Linked DNA regions of Homo sapiens: region 1 is linked to region 2. Evidence: fine-mapped expression QTL. A gene starts in region 2. The other region holds a variant in brackets. All regions are shown on one strand. Distances are between the middles of the regions.

What was found.
Region 1: its variant is fine-mapped to the expression of QARS1 in whole blood (INTERVAL, PIP above 0.99).

What each region holds. Positions count from the first base shown.
Region 1 is chr3:49,576,065-49,585,309 of GRCh38, reverse strand. All of the region lies in intron 1 of BSN (bassoon presynaptic cytomatrix protein), which reads right to left. Among named protein-coding and RNA genes, the nearest start is that of BSN, 26 kb to the right of the region's middle. The variant C/G (reference allele first, on the strand shown) is at 4,048.
Region 2 is chr3:49,100,066-49,109,285 of GRCh38, reverse strand. QARS1 (glutaminyl-tRNA synthetase 1) reads left to right here and starts at 4,529. Exons shown (of 24, transcript NM_005051.3): 1 at 4,529-4,669; 2 at 4,815-4,962; 3 at 5,314-5,423; 4 at 5,580-5,655; 5 at 5,877-5,941; 6 at 6,814-6,867; 7 at 7,021-7,081; 8 at 7,387-7,458; 9 at 7,581-7,666; 10 at 7,845-7,931; 11 at 8,612-8,711; 12 at 8,828-8,906; 13 at 8,988-9,096; 14 at 9,195-9,220. The coding sequence starts at 4,553. It overlaps USP19 (ubiquitin specific peptidase 19), which reads left to right. Exons shown (of 27, transcript NM_001199161.2): 27 at 758-1,236. The coding sequence ends at 874. RefSeq lists enhancers at 3,355-4,004, 4,198-4,357, 4,568-4,757, 5,307-5,957, 8,432-8,932.

The DNA.
Region 1 (9,245 bases), 480 kb before region 2:
TGGTGCTTCTGATTCCCTCAGTCTGTTTCCCCACCCACGATCTCCTCTTTCCTTGACCTAGACACACCAAAAATAATTCAATAAAATAAAAATTAAAATTAAAAAAAAAACAACTAAAAATTGGGCTACCATATGATCCATCAATCCCACCACTGGGTATCCACCCAAAAGAAAGGAAATCAATATATTGAAGAGATATCTGCACTCCTGAGTTTGTCGCAGCACTGTTTATAATAGCTAAGATTTCGAAGCAACCTAGGTGTCTAACAACAGCTGAATGGATAAAGAAAATGTGGCACGTATATACAGTGGAGTACTACTCAGCCATAAAAAAAGAATGAGATACAGTCATTTGCAACAATACGGCCAGAACTAGAGATCATTATGTTAAATGAAATAAGCCAGGCACAGAAAGACAAACATCGCATGTTCTCACTTATTCGTGGGATCTGAAAATCAAAACAATTGAACCCATGAACATGGAGAAGAGAAGGATAGTTACCAGAGGCTGGGAAGGGTAGTGGGAGGGTGGTGGAAGAGGTGAGGATGGTTAATGGGTACACAAAAAAATAGTTAGAAAGAATGAATAAGACCTACTATTTGATAGCACAACAAGGTGACTATAGTCAATAATAACTTAATTGTATATTTTTAAATAACTTAAAGAATGTGATTGGATTGTTTGTAACTCAAAGGATAAATGCTTGAGGGGATGGATACCCCATTCTCCATGGTGTGCTTATTTCACGATGCATGCCTGTATCAAAACATCTCAGGTACCTTATAAATATATACACCTACTAAGTGCCCAAAAAAATGAAAAATAGAAAATAAAACAAAAAAGAGAAAAGACCTCAAACCAATAACCTAAACTTCCGACTTAATACTTAGAAAAAGAAGAGCAAACTAAACACAATGTAAATATAATGAAGAAAATAATAAAGATTAGAGGTGAAATACAGAATAGAAAATAGAGAAAGACAATAAAACCAAAAGATGGTTCTTTCAAAAGATAAAAAAAAAATCAATAAGCCTTCTTTTAACAAAGAAAAAAAGATTCAAATGACTAAAATCAGAAATAAAAGAAAGGATGTTACTACCAATCTTAAATAAATTAAAAGGATTGGCCGGGCGTGGTGGCTCACGTCTGTAATCCCAGCACTTTGGGAAGCCGAGGTGGGTGGATCACGAGGTCAGGAGATCGAGACCCTCCTGGCTAACACGGTGAAACCCCGTCTCTACTAAAAATAAAAAAAATAAAAATAAAAATTAGCTGGGCATGGTGGTGGGCACCTGTAGTCCCAGCTACTCAGAAGGCTGAGGCAGGAGAATGGAGTGAACTCGGGAGGCAGAGCTTGCAGTGAGCCGAGATCGCGCCACTGCACTCCAGCCTGGGCGACAGTGCGAGACTCCATCTTGATAAATAAATAAATAAATAAATAAATCGGATTGCAAGAGAATACTATGAACAACCACACATCCTTAGGTAATTTAGATGAAATTGACAAATTCCAAGATGCAAACTATCAAAACTGACTCAGGAAGAAATGAAAAATCGGAATAGACCTATAACACATAAATAAACTGAATAAGTAATTTTAAAACTTCCCACAAAGAAAAGCTTATGCTCAGTTGTCTTCACTGGTGAATCCTACTAACCATTGAAAAAGAATTTATTTTTTAAAAATTTTATTTTATAACAGACAGGGTCTTGCTCTGTCATCCAGGCTGGAATGCAGTGACACAATCATAGCTCACTGCAGCCTCGAACTCCTGAGTTCAAGTGATCCTCCCACCTCAGCCTCCCACAGTGCTGGGATTAGAGGCATGAGCCACTGTGCCCAGCCAAAAATAAATTAATATCAACAAAGATACTACAAGAAAACTACAGATCAATTTTCCTTATGAAAAGAGATGCAAACATCCTTAAGAAAATACTAGCACACTGAATTCAGCAGCATATTAGAAGTATTGTACATCCTTCTATTGGGCTTTATTTCTGGAATGCAAGGTTGACTGAACATCCAAAAATCAATCAATGTTCCAGACACAGTGGCTCACACCTGTAATCCCAGCACTTTGGGAGGCCGAGGTGGGCAAATCACTTGAGGCCAGGAGTTTGAGACCAGCCTGGCCAATATAGTGAAACCCCATCTCTACTAAAAATACAAAAATTAGCCAGGAGTAGTTGCACGCACCTGTAATCCCAGCTACTCTGGAGGCTGAAGCAGGAGAATCTCTTGAACCTGGGAGGCAGAGGCTGCAGTGGGCCAAGATTGCACCACTGCACTCCAGCCTTGGGAACAGAGCAAGACCCTGTCTCATAAATAAATAAATAAATAAATAAATAAATAAATGTAATACACCATATTAATAGAATGAAGGGAATGAAGGGAAGAAACTATATGTTTACCTCAATTGATGCAGAAAAAGCATTTGACAAAAGTCAATACACTTTCATGATTCAAAAGACTTAAGCTAGAAATAGAAGGGAACTTTCTCAATATGATAAGGACTATTTATGAAAAGTTCACAGCTAACATAATACTCAATAGTGAAAAATTAGAAGCTTTCCCTTTACAATCAGAAACAAGACAACGATGTGCAAGGAAGTTTTACCATTTCTATCTAACATAGTACTGGAAGTCCTAGTCAGAGCTATTGGGCAAGAAAAAAAATAAATAAAGGACATCCAAATTGGAAAAGAAGAAGTAAAATTATCTCTACCTGCAGACCACATGATCTTACATGTAGATAACCCTAAACAGGCCACAAAAAAGTTAGAACTAATAAACAACTTCAGCAAAACTGAAGGATATAAAATCAACACACAAAAGGCAGTTCATTTCAGCTGGGCCTGTAGTTCCAGTTCCTCAGTAGGCTGAAGCAAGAGGGTTGCTTGAGCCCAGAAATTTGAGCCTGTAGTGTGTTATGACTGCAAATGTAAATAGCCACTGAACTCCAGCCTGGGCAACACAGCAAGACCCTGTCTTGAAAACAAAAATAGGCAAAGGACTTGAACAGACATTTCTCTAAAGATTTACAAATGGCCAATAAGCCATTGATTAGAAAAATGCAAATCAAAACTACAATAAGATACCACTTCACACTCTTTAGGCTATTACTAAAAACAAACAAAATAAACAGAAAATAACAAGTGTTGACAAGGACGTGGAAAAATTGGAACCCTCATACAATGATGGTGGAAATGTAAAACGGTACAGCTGCTACAGAAAAATTTTTGGCAGCGCCTCGAAAAGCCTAACATAAAATTACCATATGATCCAGGAATTCCACTCTTAGGTTTATATCCAGAGGAAGTAAAACCAGGGACTTGAACAGATACTTGAATGCCAATGTTTATTACACCATTATTCACAATATAGTAGCCCCCACTTATCCTCAGGGGATATGTTCCAAGACCCCCAGTAGATGCCTATATACACAAAGTTTGTTTTTTTTTGTTTTGTTTTTTGGGTTTTTTTTTGAGACAGAGTCTTGCTCTCTCTTCAGGCTAGAGTGCAGTGGCGCGATTTCGGCTCACTGCAACCTCTGCCTCCTGGGTTCAAGCAATTCTCCTGCCTCAGCCTCCCAAGTAGCTGGGACTACAGGCGCGTGCCACCATGCCCAGCTAATTTTTGTATTTTTAGTAGAGACAGGGTTTCACCATGTTGGCCAGGATGGTCTCGATCTCCTGACTTTGTGATCCGCCCACCTCGGCTTCCCCAAGTGCTGGGATTACAGGCGTAAGCCACCATGCCCAGCCTTGTTTTTTCCTACATATACAAACCTATGATGAAGTTTAATATATAAATTAGGCACAATAAGAGATTCACAATAACTAATAATAAAATAGAACAGTTATAACAATATACTGTAATAAAAGCTATATGAATGTGTTCTCTCAAAATATGATTGTACCATACCGTGGGTAACTAAAACCACAGAAAGCAAGACCGCAGATAAGGGGGGACTACTGGAGTCAAAAAGTAGAAACAACCCAAGTGCCCATCAATAAATGGATAGGCCAGGCGCAGTGGCTCATGC[C/G]TGTAATTCCAGCACTTTAGGAGGCTGAGGTGGGCAGATCACTTGAGGTCAGGAGTTCAAGACCAGCCTGGCCAACATGGCGAAACCCAGTCTTTACTACTAAAAATACAAAAATTAGCCTGGCATGGTGGCACACTTCTGTAGGCCCAGCTACCTGGGAGGCTGAAGCATGAGAATCACTTGAGCCCGGGAGGCAGAGGTTGCAGTGAGCCAAGATTACACCACTGCACTCCAGCCTGAGTGATGAGAGCAAAACCCTGTCTCAAAAAGAAAAAAAAAAAAAAGTTAACAGGCGCTGAAGAAAGGGGTCAATGGGGAGGTGCTGGTTAATGGTCAGAGTTTGGGGTGATTAAAAATTTTAGAAATAGATAGTGGTGATGGTTGCACAACATGAATCATGAATATACAGTAATTAATGCCACTAAATTGTACACTTAAAATGGTTAAAATGGCAAATTTATGATATTTATATTTTATCACCATTTTTAAAAGATTAATAATGTGACCAGGCACAGTGGCTCATGCCTGTAAATCCCAGCACTTTGGGAGGCAGAGGCAGGAGGATTGCTTGAGTACAGTAGCTCGAGACCAGTCTAGACTATATAGTAAAACCTGATATCTACAAAATATTAAAAAATTAGCCAGACATGGTGGTGCATGACTGTAGTCCCTTTGGGAGGCTGAGATGAGAGGACTGCTTGAGCCCGGGAGGCTGAGATGAGAGGACTGCTTGAGCCCAGGAGGCTGAGGCTGCAGTGCGTCATGATCGCACCACTGCACTCCAGCCTCGGTGACAGAGCAAGATCCTAAAAAAATTTATAATGTAATACGTAATAAACCACTGAATTATACTCTTTAAATGGGTAAATTTTCTGGCATATTAATTATATCTCAATAAAACTGTCTTAAGATTTCATATTAATCTTTCACAAACTCTTCCAAAAAATAGAACAGGATAAAACACTTCTCAACTCATTCCATGAGGCCACAATTACCCTGATATCAAAACCACACATAAATTGGATGTGGTGGCACATGCCTGTAGTCCCAGCTACTCAGGGGAATAAGGTGGGAGGATCACTTGAGCCCAGGAGTTTGAATCTAGCCTCAGGAACATAATGAGACCCTGTATCTAAATAAAATGAAATAAACAAAATAAAATAATCAAATTAAATTTGTAAAAAAACAGACATAAACATCACAAGAAAACTTTAGACCAATATATCTTGTTACTATAGATGCAAAAATTATAAACAACTACTAGCAAAACAAATCCGGTGACATATAGAAAGGATTTAATATAATAACCAAATGAATTTTTCTCAGACATGCAATTATGGCTTAACATCTAAAAAATCAATTAATATAGCATATTAATAGAATGATGGACAAAAACCATCTATCAAGATTACAAAAACTACATGATCATCTTGATAGATGCAGAAAGCATTTCATACCTTTTCCAATTCAATACCTTTTTATGCTTAAAAAAATTTAACAGACTAGAAATAGAAAGGAATTTCAATTTTTTAAAGCGCATCTAGCCAGGTGCGGTGGCTCACACCTGTAATCCCAGCACCTTGGGAGGCCGAGGCTGGTGGATCATGAGGTCAGGAGTTCGAGACCAGCCTGACCAACATGGTGAAACCCTGTCTCTACTAAAAATACAAAAAAAAAAGAAAGAAAGAAAAAATCAGCTGGGCGTGGTGACGGGCGCCTGTAATCTTAGCTACTTAGGAGGCTGAGGCAGGAGAATTGCTTGAACCCTGGAGTCGGAGGCTGCAGTGAGCAGAGATCCTGCCACTGCACTCCAGCCTGGGCAACAGTGCGAGACTCCGTCTCAAAAAAAAAAAAAATTGTAAAGCGCATCTATGAAAAACCCATACCTAAAATCATACTTATTGATAAATGGATAAAATGTGGTACATCCATACAATGAAATATCACTGGGCAATAAGAAGGAAAGAAGTAACTGGCTGAGTGCAGTGGCTCATGCCTGTAATCCCAGCACTTTGGGTGCCTGAGACAGGAGGATCACTTGAAGCCATGAATTTGAGACCAGCCTGGGCAACATAGGAAGATTCTGTCACTTAAAAAAAAAAAAAAAATTAGCCAGGCATGGTGGTGCATGCCTGTAGTCCTAGCTGCTTGGGAGGCTGAGGTGGGAGGATCTCTTGAGCCCAGGAGTTTGAGGTTACAGTAAGCCATGATCATACCACTGTACTCCAGCCTCCATGTCCTCTGGGTGACAGAGTAAGATTCCCTCTCTAAACAAATAAATGAATAAAGGAATGAAGTGCTGATACACACTACATCTTACATCCTGGATGAGCCTTGGAAAACACACTAAGTGAAAGAAGCCAAACCCCCAAAACACACATTGCATGATTCCATTTATATGAAATGTCCAGAATAGGCAAATCTAGAGAGGTGGATAGTAGATTAGTGGTTACCTTAGGCCTGGAGGATAGATAGAGGGGGGAAGAATGGAAAGTGACATTTTGGGTATGGGGTTTCTTCTTGTGGGTGATGAAAATGTTCTCAAATTGTAGCTTTGGGCCAGGTGCGGTGGTTCACACCTGTAATCCCAGCACTTTAGGAGGCCGACACGGGTGGATCACGAGATCAGGAGATTGAGACCACATGGCTAACACGGTGAAACCCCATCTCTACTAAAAATACAAAAAATTGGCCGGGCAAGGTGGTGGGCACCTGTAGTCCCAGCTACTCGGGAGGCTGAGGCAGGAGAATGGCGTGAACCCAGGAGGCGGAACTTGCAGTGAGCTGAGATCGCACCACTGCACTCCAGGCTGAGCGACAGAGCGAGACTCCGTCTTATAAAAAAAAAAAAACTGTAGCTTTGGTTGTAGAACTCTAAGTGCACTAAAAACCATTGGATGGCACAGTTAAAATGAGTGAATTCTATGGTAAGTGAATTATATCTCAGAAAGATATTTTTAAAAGAGTAACTAGCCAGGCACAGTGGCTTGTGCCTATAATCCCAGTTACTTGGGAGGCTGTGGCAGCATTGAGGGCAGGAGTTTGAGACCATCCTAGGTGGGCAACAAGGACGGTCCTGTCTTTAAGAAAAGGATAGCCGAGCCTACAGCCCCCAAATATGCAATATTCGTTTCTAAATTGTAAGCATGTATTAGTGTGCTAATGTATTAAGCATCCACAAAATTAGAAAATAACAAGTGATGTTTAAAATGAAAAAAGAAAACTTAGGTGTGAAACCTGTAATGATTTAAATGCCTTTCACTGCTGGGAATCAGGACAGTAACCCCGCTACCCCCAGCAGTTCTCAGCTCACTCTATGTAGCAGGCTCTTCCTTTACATAATACCTGCCTAACAACCACACAGGTGGGTATTCTTATCATTTCCATTTTTTCCAAGAAAACTAAAGATTAAAGAAACAAAGCAAGCTGACGCGTTGGCTCATGCCTGTAATTCCACCACTTTGGGAGGCCGAGGCGGGTGGATTACTTGAGGTGAGGAGTTTGAGACCAGCCTGGGCAACATGGTAAAACCCCATCTCTACTAAAAATACAAAAATTAGCCAGGCATGGTGGTGCATGCCTGTAATCCCAGCTACTTGGGAGGCCGAGGCAGGAGAATCGCTTTAACCTGGGAGGTGGAGGTTGCAGTAAGCCATGATCATGCCACTGAGCTCCAGCCTGGGCGACAGTGCGAGACTCTGTCTCACAAAAAAAAAAAAAGAAAGAAAAGAAAAGAAAAAAGAAACAAAGCAGCTGAAGGTCAACAGAAAAACAGGCAGCAAGGCTAGGACCTGGCCTGGGAACTCCTGGCCTCCAAGCCCTGCTCTCACAATCTCAACCCTCTGAAATGAAGTGCTTCCTCTGAAATGCACCAAGAAGGCCAGTTCCTAGGAAACATGTCTCCTAGCTGTTTGCCATTTCATAGAAGATAAAAAATGTTCCCAGTAGGGTAGAATTTGAGTTAAAACCCAGGAACAAACTCTTGTAATTTGATTGCCTAGAAATTCAAAATTCATATTCCTGGGGTAAATTTAGAGGCAGAAGCCTCTCACAAGCCATAGGGAAACAAGCAAGATAGCGAAGAAATTCGGGAGCAGGACATAATTAGTAGCCAACATTAAGTACTGCCTAGAACAGTGTTTGGCATGTAACAGGTGCTCAATACATATTTGTTGAATAAATGAATGACTCCAAGCACTATCGTGCCCTGGAAAGGAGGTCTGACCCAAGGTGGAGATGGACTGCACTAGAAAAAAATTTCAAATTCCAAACACCAAAACCTTTGGAGAAGAGTTCCAGAGAGATGGGAACCACCCTCCTTCCGGATTGGGGTTGAGTCTCTGAAGGGACACAGGCAGCATATACCAATGTAGGGCACCATCTGGCATCAAGAAGAAAGGCAGGATGCTGGCTGCAAATGACTACTCATGCTGCAATGGCCCTGCTCCCAGGGAACCTCTGAAAGCAGTCTTCTGCTCAGATGAGTATGAGCCTGAGCAAGGCAGACTGCCCAGATATGAGGGTATGAATAAAGAAAGTGAGGCCATGCTCAGTGGCTCACGCCTGTAATCCCAGCACTTTGGGAGGCTGAGGTGGGTGAATCACCTGAGGCCAGGAGTTCAAGACCAGCCTGGCCAACATGGTGAAACCCCATCTCTACTAAAATTTCAAAAAATTAGCCGAGCATCATGGTGGGTGCCTGTAATCCTAGCTACTTGGGAGGCTGAGGCAGAAGAATCACTTTAACCCAGGAGATGGAGGTTGCAGTGAGCTGAGATCGTGCCACTGCATTCCAGCCTGAGTGACAGAGCAAGACTCTGTCTCAAAAAAAAAAAGAAAAAAGAAAAAAGAAAAAAAAAGAAAAGTGAATTCACACCTCTTACCAAGGAAGAAACAGGGAATTTCCCAGATATTCCTGCATTCAAGAGACAGCCCTGGCCAGAAAGGGAGACAAGAGCCTGGAAGCTCCCTGGAATCCAAAGGCAGAACCTAGGTGACAAGGCCACTGTCCTCCCCAAGCAGGATGCTGCTGCAGCTCACAGTGCCCTCAGAGATGGAGCAAGTAGGAATCCAGCTAGAACAGAAGATATAGTGGTTTACTTGGAGATTCACCTGGGACACAGGAGTACCCAACAGCCCCAAAAGGCACCAGCGGTTACTCTAATTCAGTAAGAGACAACACCTTGTCTCTTACAAAA
Region 2 (9,220 bases):
GCCCCAGTCACCCCAGGTGGGACTGTCATGGCTAAGGGTCTCAGGGACACTGGGTCCTCCCCACCCCCGGGGTGCTGATGGCCGTTTCCACATACCCTAGGCTTCCCGGATTTGGCAGGAGCTGGAGGCTGAGGAGGAGCCGGTGCCTGAGGGGTCTGGGCCCCTGGGTCCCTGGGGGCCCCAAGACTGGGTGGGCCCCCTACCACGTGGCCCTACCACACCAGATGAGGGCTGCCTCCGGTACTTTGTCCTGGGCACCGTGGCGGCTTTGGTGGCCCTCGTGCTCAACGTGTTCTATCCTCTGGTATCCCAGAGTCGCTGGAGATGAGCTCGCCTGCAGGCAGCTGCTGTGAGCTGGCCTACCTGCCTGCCCCAGGCCATGCCTGCCTTTGTTGTGGGGAACACCTCTGGGCTTTGGGCCTCAGCTTATGCATCTGGTGGGAGAGGGTGGGGAGGTTGTGGCCCCTGCAGGGGCAGAGTATCCTAGGGTGTGTATCCATCTGGCTGTCTGTCCATTCATCCTGCTGCTCTGACCCTTGGCCTCAGGCTTGGCCCTGCCCAAGCTACTTCCTGTACTTAAAAGTGTTAATAAAACCAGACTATTCAGGCCCAATCTCGTCTCTCTGTCTCAACGCCGCTGCTGTCTGCGCCTGCCTTGGGACCCTCCCTTGGGTGCCAGGGCTCCAAGCCAGCACCCCCGGGATGCCAGGCGGCATGCTGGGCAGCCCCCAACCCCTGTCCTCGTATTCTGTTGCAGGGACTAGGCCCTGGCCAGGCCCCCGAGGTGGCCCCCACGCGGACAGCCCCTGAACGCTTCGCCCCCCCTGTGGATCGGCCAGCCCCCACCTACAGCAACATGGAGGAGGTGGATTAGCAGGTCCCTGGCTGATGGGGGGGACTGGGTTTGGGACACCCACACAGAGGGCCAGCTCCTTGCCGCTTCTCCTTCTCTAACCCAGAGGACACTGGCTCTGTCAATGGGAAGCTGAGGGGTATGATTTGGGTGTGGAGACCTCTCAGGTTGGGACTTCTTGTCAGCTTGGACCCCTGACCAGTGGGCTTTGGCTTCTCCAGCCGCCTCCAGTGCTGCGTGATTTGATTCTGTTGTACCTTCAATTCTTCTGACCCGCATTATAAACATTATAATTTTATTCTAAAAATTGTAATTTTTTTTGCATTTTGGAAGTGACTGCTGCTGTTTAAATATATTTTAAAAATAAATAATAAGTAAGTAGACTTAGTGACTGTGATCCACCACATGCTGGGGCCACCTCCCCTCCCCATCATTTGCGGTGTGTATGTGTGTGTATGTGTGTTTATATATGAGAGACCCTGAAAGTGCCCTAGTCTGAAGGGAGATGATGGGGTCCCAGCTCATGTCCTATGGGTCATGAAGCCCCCAGTGCTATCAGCTTTTTGGAGCCTACCTGCTGCTCTTTCATCCCACTGGTTCTGGATCCTACATAAGAGGCAGCTTGGTAGGCATCGTCAGGATCTCAATATAGCCAAGGGACAGAGGAGTATATGAAGCACTGGAGCTGACAGCGTGGAGTAAAAGGTGCATTCACCAGAGCAGCCTGGGGCTGACAAGTCAGGGAGGACTTGGGGGACAGAAGTACTGGGAGATCTTCCTCCTCCTCTCCTGTCCTCAGCTTTTTCTTTGCTGTAACTTGAACACTAACTGCATCCCTGCAGGTAACAGAGCAGGAGGAAAACTGCTGTGGGGCAGATCTTGCTGCCCTGAAAAGAGGACAAGCAGAGAGGACCAGAGTGAATCTTGTCTGACTTCTATTGGAGGGAGGGTGCTGGGGCCTGCCAGCCTGAAGAGTCTTCCCTTAAGAGTTCCTGAAGCCTTCCTTCTTTGGCCAGGCATGGTGGCTCACACTTGTAATCCCCGCACTTTGAGAGGCCGAGGCGAGTGGGTCATGAGGTCAGGAGTTCGAGACCAGCCTGGCCAAGATGGTGAAACCCCGTCTCTACTAAAAATACAAAAATTAGGTGCAGTGGCGGGCACCTGTAATCCCAGCTACTTGGGAGGCTGAGGCAGGAGAATCGCTTGAACCTGGGAGGCGGAGGTTGCAGGGAGCCGAGATCGCGCCACTGCACTCTAGCCTGGGCGACAGAGCAAGACTCCGTCTCAAAAAAAAAAAAAAAAAAAAAAGTTGCTGAAACTGGCCAAGTGTGGTGGCTTATGCCTGTAATCCCAGCACTTTGGGGCGAGGTGGGAGGATAGCTTGAGCCTAGGAGTTCAGGACCAGCCTGGGCAACATAGTGAGACCCTGTCTTTACCAAAAATATAAAAATTAGCTGGCTCTTATGGTATGCACTTGTAGTCCCAAATATTTCAGAGGCTGAGATGGGAGGATCGTTTGAGCCCAGGAGGTTGCTGGACCCTACCTCTGTCCATTCCACGACTGGGCCTTGCTGGCTGCTGCCTGGTTTTTCCACTTGGTCATCTTTGTCTTGACTTTTCCTGGAAGCAGTGCCAGGGGCTTATGCAGGCAAGCTAACCTCCAGACTGGGCCCATACAATTTAACATTTCTGCTTTGTGCAAGTCGTAGACATCTAGGGCACTAGCTGGATATCGACTGGTATGCTACCACTTGTGGCATTCTTGGTGACACTGGTGGGGCTACTGCCTCATTCTATGACTTGTAGCCATGGCGTCCACAGTGTACCATGAAGTAACCAGGGAAGGGAGTGCAGATCTTGATCTCATTGAGGGAGCCATCACTAGACCTGTAGGACTTGGTGATGGTGCTACAGTGAATCTATTGGCAGCATCAGGTACTGAGGAAATAGTGGCAGTGGCAGGCACTCTGCATGGCTTTGCTCACCATGGGCACCTTTATGGTGGGCTGGGTACTTGCAGCTTCAAATTTGGTGCACGGCTGGTGTGGCTATGGCTCTGCTTCTTGGTACCTGTCCTTAGCACCACTGGTCTGCATCCCCTGCTTAATTCCTGCACCTGGCCTTTCTCATGCAGTACACTGCAGGGCTAGGCATCTGGCTGGGGCCACGGGGCCATGGAGATGTGGGAAGCCCCAGGACAGCATTGGACCTGGATAGCGATACAGCATGTGGCCCTGGTCTGCACCTGGCATGTGATCATTAGGTGGTATCCAGATGTAGGCCCAGACTTGGAGGTTGGTCATTAATAATGGGATGTGGGCACAAAAGACACAGAATATAGATAAAGACTAGTCAGGATCCTGCCTATTCCTTGAAGGTCCAGAAGTATGAGCATCACCAATTCCTGCAAGAGCTCCAATCTCAAATGTGGGGATTTCCACCATCCCACCACCAGCTGCTCATTCTCTGCAACCCCCTACCTCAGTCCCTTACTACCTTAGTCCCTTTTCTCACACACACACAAAGTCTCTGTTCTGTTTCAGCCAGCAGGTCCTGGAAGTCCAGTGAGACTGTGGAAAGATCCCCAAGCACAACAGCTATAATCATGAAGCTATAACCATCTCATTTGTCCCACCCTCTCACAAGCTCAATAAAATATCCTCTCAAAGGCCTGCAGAGGGATTTCAAGGTCTAATTTGCTTGTGGTTTTCCTGATAATGCTTTGGCAAGAGGGTAAGTGTGGGATGAGATTTTTTTTTCTTTTCTTTTTTTTTTTTTGAGACAGTCTTACTCTGTTGACCAGGCTGGAGTGCAGTGGCACAATCTCGGCTCACTGCAACTTCCGCCTCCCAGGTTCAAGCGATTCTCCAGCCTCAGCCTCCTGAGTAGCTGGGATTACAGGCGTGCGCCATCACGCCCGGCTAATTTTTGTATTTTTAGTAGAGACAGGGTTTCACCATGTTGGCGAGGCTGATCTCGAACTCCTGGCCTCAAGTGATCCGCCCGCCTCGGCCTCCCAAAGTGCTGGGATTAAAGGCCTGAGCCACTGCGCCCGGCCAAGATTTTAAACCAAATCATCATAGAACTTATGTGAGGTCCCTCCTGGCCCAGACCCGTCCCTTCCCTTTCCTGGCCAGCTGTGTCCAAGTGGGCACCTGAAAACCGGCGGACTTATGGGGCCCCTGGATCGGTCATTCCACACATTCTCTACGATGGAGTCTGGATGAGGGATTTCCTGGGCTTCATTTGTTCAACTGTTTCCATGACAACTCCAAAGCTGTGGCGTCAAAAGCGTGACAGGGACTCGCATTTGCCCCCGAGGACAATTACTATATTGAGATGGAGTTACCAGGGCTGAAGTAGAAAAGTCAGAGCAAAACCACGCCTGTGTCTTCCTCCTGCCTCAGGGACGAACACCTTCCTTCCAGGTCCGTGGCAAATATCTCCAAAAGCCCTGCCGCCTGCCAACACCCCTTCAAGTTCCCAGTTCCACGGAGGCGGAAGCAAAGCCCCCGGAAAGGCCGGTTTGTCCGCCCTGTGTTGTTTAAAGGGGATAGACGACCTTGGAGCGCCCCGCCCCCTCCCGCCAAGGAAGGACCCCATTGGCTCTCCCCGGAGGCTTCACTCTCATTGGTCAGCGAGTGAATGCCGACCTGCAGACTGGGGCCTAAGTTTCTTTTAGTTTCCGGTGTCTCTGCAATGGCGGCTCTAGACTCCCTGTCGCTCTTCACTAGCCTCGGCCTGAGCGAGCAGAAGGCCCGCGAGACGCTCAAGAACTCGGCTCTGAGCGCGCAGCTGCGCGAGGCCGCTACTCAGGTGCGAGCCCCTCTGCCCCCGGCCTGGTTTGCAGACCATGCTGCAACGCAGCGCGGGGCGGGGTCCAGATCCCGACCTGCCCCGTTTGTCCCGCCCTTTCCTCTCACTGAGCGCGGGGCTTCTCTCTTGACCCCTCTGACCTCAGGCTCAGCAGACCCTGGGTTCCACCATTGACAAAGCTACCGGGATCCTGTTATATGGCTTGGCCTCCCGACTCAGGGATACCCGGCGTCTCTCCTTCCTTGTAAGCTACATAGCCAGTAAGAAGATCCACACTGAGCCCCAGCTAAGCGGTGAGACCCCTACCTGTCCTGCCAGTTCGCACCAATGCCTCCCTTCAGCCAAGACCCCTGTCTTCCCTTTTTGCCAAGTCCTCCAGTTTCTTTCTAGACACCTAGTTCTGCACAGGCACTGAGGCATGGAAGGGGTGGCCTATGGTGAGACTGACACGGGAACTGTCAGGGTCTGAGGGGGGATCCACTCTCGACACGTGCTTCTTTCTTCCCTGTGTTCTCTAGGGTGGTGGTGCCAGGGCTTAACTTTTCAGGAGGCCAGACTATCCTTGGAGTTTCATGAGATTAGGACCCTGTCTGTCCACTTCTTGGAGCAGAGATGCCACAAACTCACGGGCTCTTTCTTCTCAGCTGCCCTTGAGTATGTGCGGAGTCACCCCTTGGACCCCATCGACACTGTGGACTTCGAGCGGGAATGTGGCGTGGGTGTCATTGTGACCCCAGAGCAGATTGAGGAGGCTGTGAGTCTTTCCCCAGGCATCGTCTGCCTCCCCAGTCCTGGCCATGGAAAGGAGTGGCTCAGTTTCCCTCCTCAGGAAGACCCAGAGTGAGGGTGTGGGTTCCCAGAATATCTCTAAAGGTGGCTTTCCTGAACCACATGGTTTGGCTTTCTGCAGGTGGAGGCTGCTATTAACAGGCACCGGCCCCAGCTCCTGGTGGAACGTTACCATTTCAACATGGGGCTGCTGATGGGTGAGCAGGGCCTGGAACGGGGCTATATTGTTCTCTCTGGTCATGCCTTTTCTTCTGGGCACGAGTGAGAAGGAGGTGGGGGAAGGAACAGGAGTGACTTAAAGTGGTCTGGCTGGGCTCAGGCTCTGGTTCTGGTGGTCAGCCAGGACCTTTCCTTGGGAAAGAGGTGGGGGGAGTACTCTTTTTTGCCTTTCTGCAGCTCCTTGTGCCTATGCTTCTAGGAGAGGCTCGGGCTGTGCTGAAGTGGGCAGATGGCAAAATGATCAAGAATGAAGTGGACATGCAGGTGAGCGTGCTTCACTAAGCTGAAGCTGGCAAAGACTCTGGCATGAACAGAGCCTGGAATCCACTAAGGGATAAAAGGCAGGAAGAGGGCTGGGCATGGTGGCTCACGCTTCTGATCCCAGCACTTTGGGAGGCTGAGGCAGGAGGATTACTTGAGCCCAGGAGTTCAAGACCAGCCTGAGCAACATATTGAGAACTCCTCTCTACAGAAAATTTAAAAATTAGCCAGACATGGTGGTGTATACCTGTAGTCCCAGCAATTTGTGGGGCTGTGGTGGGAAGATTGCTTGAATCTAAGAGATCAAGGCTGCAGTAAGCTCTGATTGCACCACTGCACTCCATCCTGGAGTACAGAATGAGACCCTGTCTCAAAATCAACAACAATAAAAAAAGGTGGGAGGGGGCTGGGCATGGTGGCTCACACCTGTAATCCCAACACTATTGGGAGGCTGAGGTGGGCAGATCACCTGAGGTCAGGAGTTTGAGAACAGCCTGGCCAACATGGTGAAACCCCATCTCTACAAAAAGTACAAAAATTAGCTGGGTGTGGTGGCGGGCACATGCAGTCCCAGGTACTCAGAAGGGCTGAGGTAGGAAAATCGCTTGAATCCAGGAGGCGGAGGTTGCAGTGAGCGGAGACTGTGCCATTGCATTCCAGCCTGGGCAACATGAGCAAGACTCCAGTCTGGGCAACAAGAGCAAGAGCATTTTAAGCTAGCAGACCCACATGAGAAGAGATGGGATGGGCTAGGTAGGTTTTTTCAGTCAGTGCTGGTAGATAGGCCAGGAAGCCTTGGGTTGGTGGGTAGGATCAGTCAGGGGCTCCTTGAAAGAGGATACTCCTGCCTCTGCCTGATTCTGGTCTCTGCTCAGGTCCTCCACCTTCTGGGCCCCAAGTTGGAGGCTGATCTGGAGAAGAAGTTCAAGGTAGGGATGGGCATGGCCCTGAGTCCCTGAGGGTGAGGTGAGGTATGGTGAGACTTCAGGCTGGGGAAGGAAGTGTCTGACCACAGGGATCCCAAGACCCTATCCAAGAGAAAATTTGATGCCATTTTCTGAAGCACCTGGGGCTTCTTTCAGGTGGCAAAAGCTCGGCTAGAAGAAACAGACCGGAGGACGGCAAAGGATGTGGTGGAGAATGGTGAGAAGCTTGAGACTCCTGTCACAGCATTCAGCTCCCTGACTTCTGAACCTCCTCAGAAGAGTCCTTACAGGCTCCTCAGGCCCTTGGCTTACTCAGTACCCTGACTTCTGTCTCAAGACTGGGATTCCTGGTGTTTCTTTTGTTCCCTTTGCCCAGAGACTGGCATGAGAGGCCTCAGATGTCTGGCTCTAGATATCTTGTCTCTGGAATTGAGGGAATAGGGGTCTACTCAGTTCTGTTCTGGCTGTAGGATATGGTAAATGTATCTAGAGGACAAGTTTTCCTTGTTTTGTTCCCCACAGGCGAGACTGCTGACCAGACCCTGTCTCTGATGGAGCAGCTCCGGGGGGAGGCCCTTAAGTTCCACAAGCCTGGTTAGTGGGCATGTCAAAACCCTGGGGAGGGCTGGATCTTGGCAGCAGCTCCTATAGTCAGGCCCCTGGGGTCAGAGGCTTTGGCTGCAGCCTGGTCCTTAGGCTTATTCTGGTCCTGGCAGGTGAGAACTACAAGACCCCAGGCTATGTGGTCACTCCACACACCATGAATCTACTAAAGCAGCACCTGGAGATTACTGGTGGGCAGGTGTGTGGGGATGTGGCCATGTGAGCTTGTGCCATCAAACACCTGCCTGAGTGCCTGGGCTGCGTCCATACTGCCCCATCTCACCCATCACCATGGCCTTCCTGGGAGGGAACATCTGTTTCTTTAAGGTCATCTGAGCTCAGACTTTATTTCTCTTTTCCCATCCCCCTTATTTTAGGTACGTACCCGGTTCCCGCCAGAACCCAATGGAATCCTGCATATTGGACATGCCAAAGCCATCAATTTCAACTTTGGCTATGCCAAGGTAAGCATGTGTCTAGGGACCTGGCAAGCAAGATGACCACTTGCTGTTCCCATGAGTGGATACCATATCCCTGCCTTGCTGTCTGCTCCCAATAATGTACCCAGGTGGGCAGAGGCCATGGAAAGGAACCACATGTGTGACAGATACCTAGGAATCTATTGAGCTTATTGGAATAAATAGCTCCCTCCCTCTGAGGAGTCAGTGAGTTCAAATTTGGGGGAGTTGCCAGTGCAGTCCCTAGGCTTAGAAAGATGCTAGGTTAGATACAGGAAGGTGAGAGAAGCTCTTGAAGACATTTTTAATTCTGACATGAGTCCGGGTTGGGTGGCTCACGCCTGTAATCTCAACACTTCGGGAGGCTAAAGTGGGTGGATCACTTGAGGTCAGGAGTTCGAAACCAATCTGGCCAACATGGTGAAACCCCATCTCTACTAAAAATACAAAAGTTAGCTGGCCATGGTGGCACACGCTTGTAGTTTCAGCTACTGGGAAGCTGAGGCAGGAGAAACCCAGGAGGTGGAGGCTGCAGTGAGCCAAGATGGTGCAAGATAATCAAGACTCCATCTCAAAAAAAAAGAAAATTCTGACATGAGAGTGCTCTGTGAATATCCTAGTTTGATAAACAGGATTGTGGGGCTGATGGATGATGTGGGAGTTCACAGATGGTGCAACTTTCCTAGGCCAACAATGGCATCTGTTTTCTGCGTTTTGATGACACCAACCCTGAGAAGGAGGAAGCAAAGTTCTTCACGGCCATCTGTGACATGGTAGCCTGGCTAGGTATGGACTAGGCAAAGCCTAGAAGGGCTGGTGGTTAGTGGGCCTCTCCTTGGGCCATGGCCTGCCCACTGGGTGTTTGTGGCTGGCTGCTCATACTTTGTTTCATTTTGCCCCAGGCTACACACCTTACAAAGTCACATATGCGTCTGACTATTTTGACCAGCTATATGCGTGGGCTGTGGAGCTCATCCGCAGGTAAGGCCAGGGCCATGACGTAGAGCCAGGCAGACTGACTAGGTCACAGCCATGCTGGGCACTCACACCGCTTCCCCACAGGGGTCTGGCTTATGTGTGCCACCAGCGAGGAGAGGAGCTCAAAGGCCATAATACTCTGCCTTCACCCTGGAGAGACCGTCCCATGGAGGAGTCACTGCTGCTCTTTGAGGTGGGGTCCTAGAGGAGCATCTGGGTTTGGGTGGGCCAAGGTGCTGAGAATGAGATGCTCCTGTGCTTAGAGACAGCCTGAGTCCTTGTTCCCCTCAGGCAATGCGCAAGGGCAAGTTTTCAGA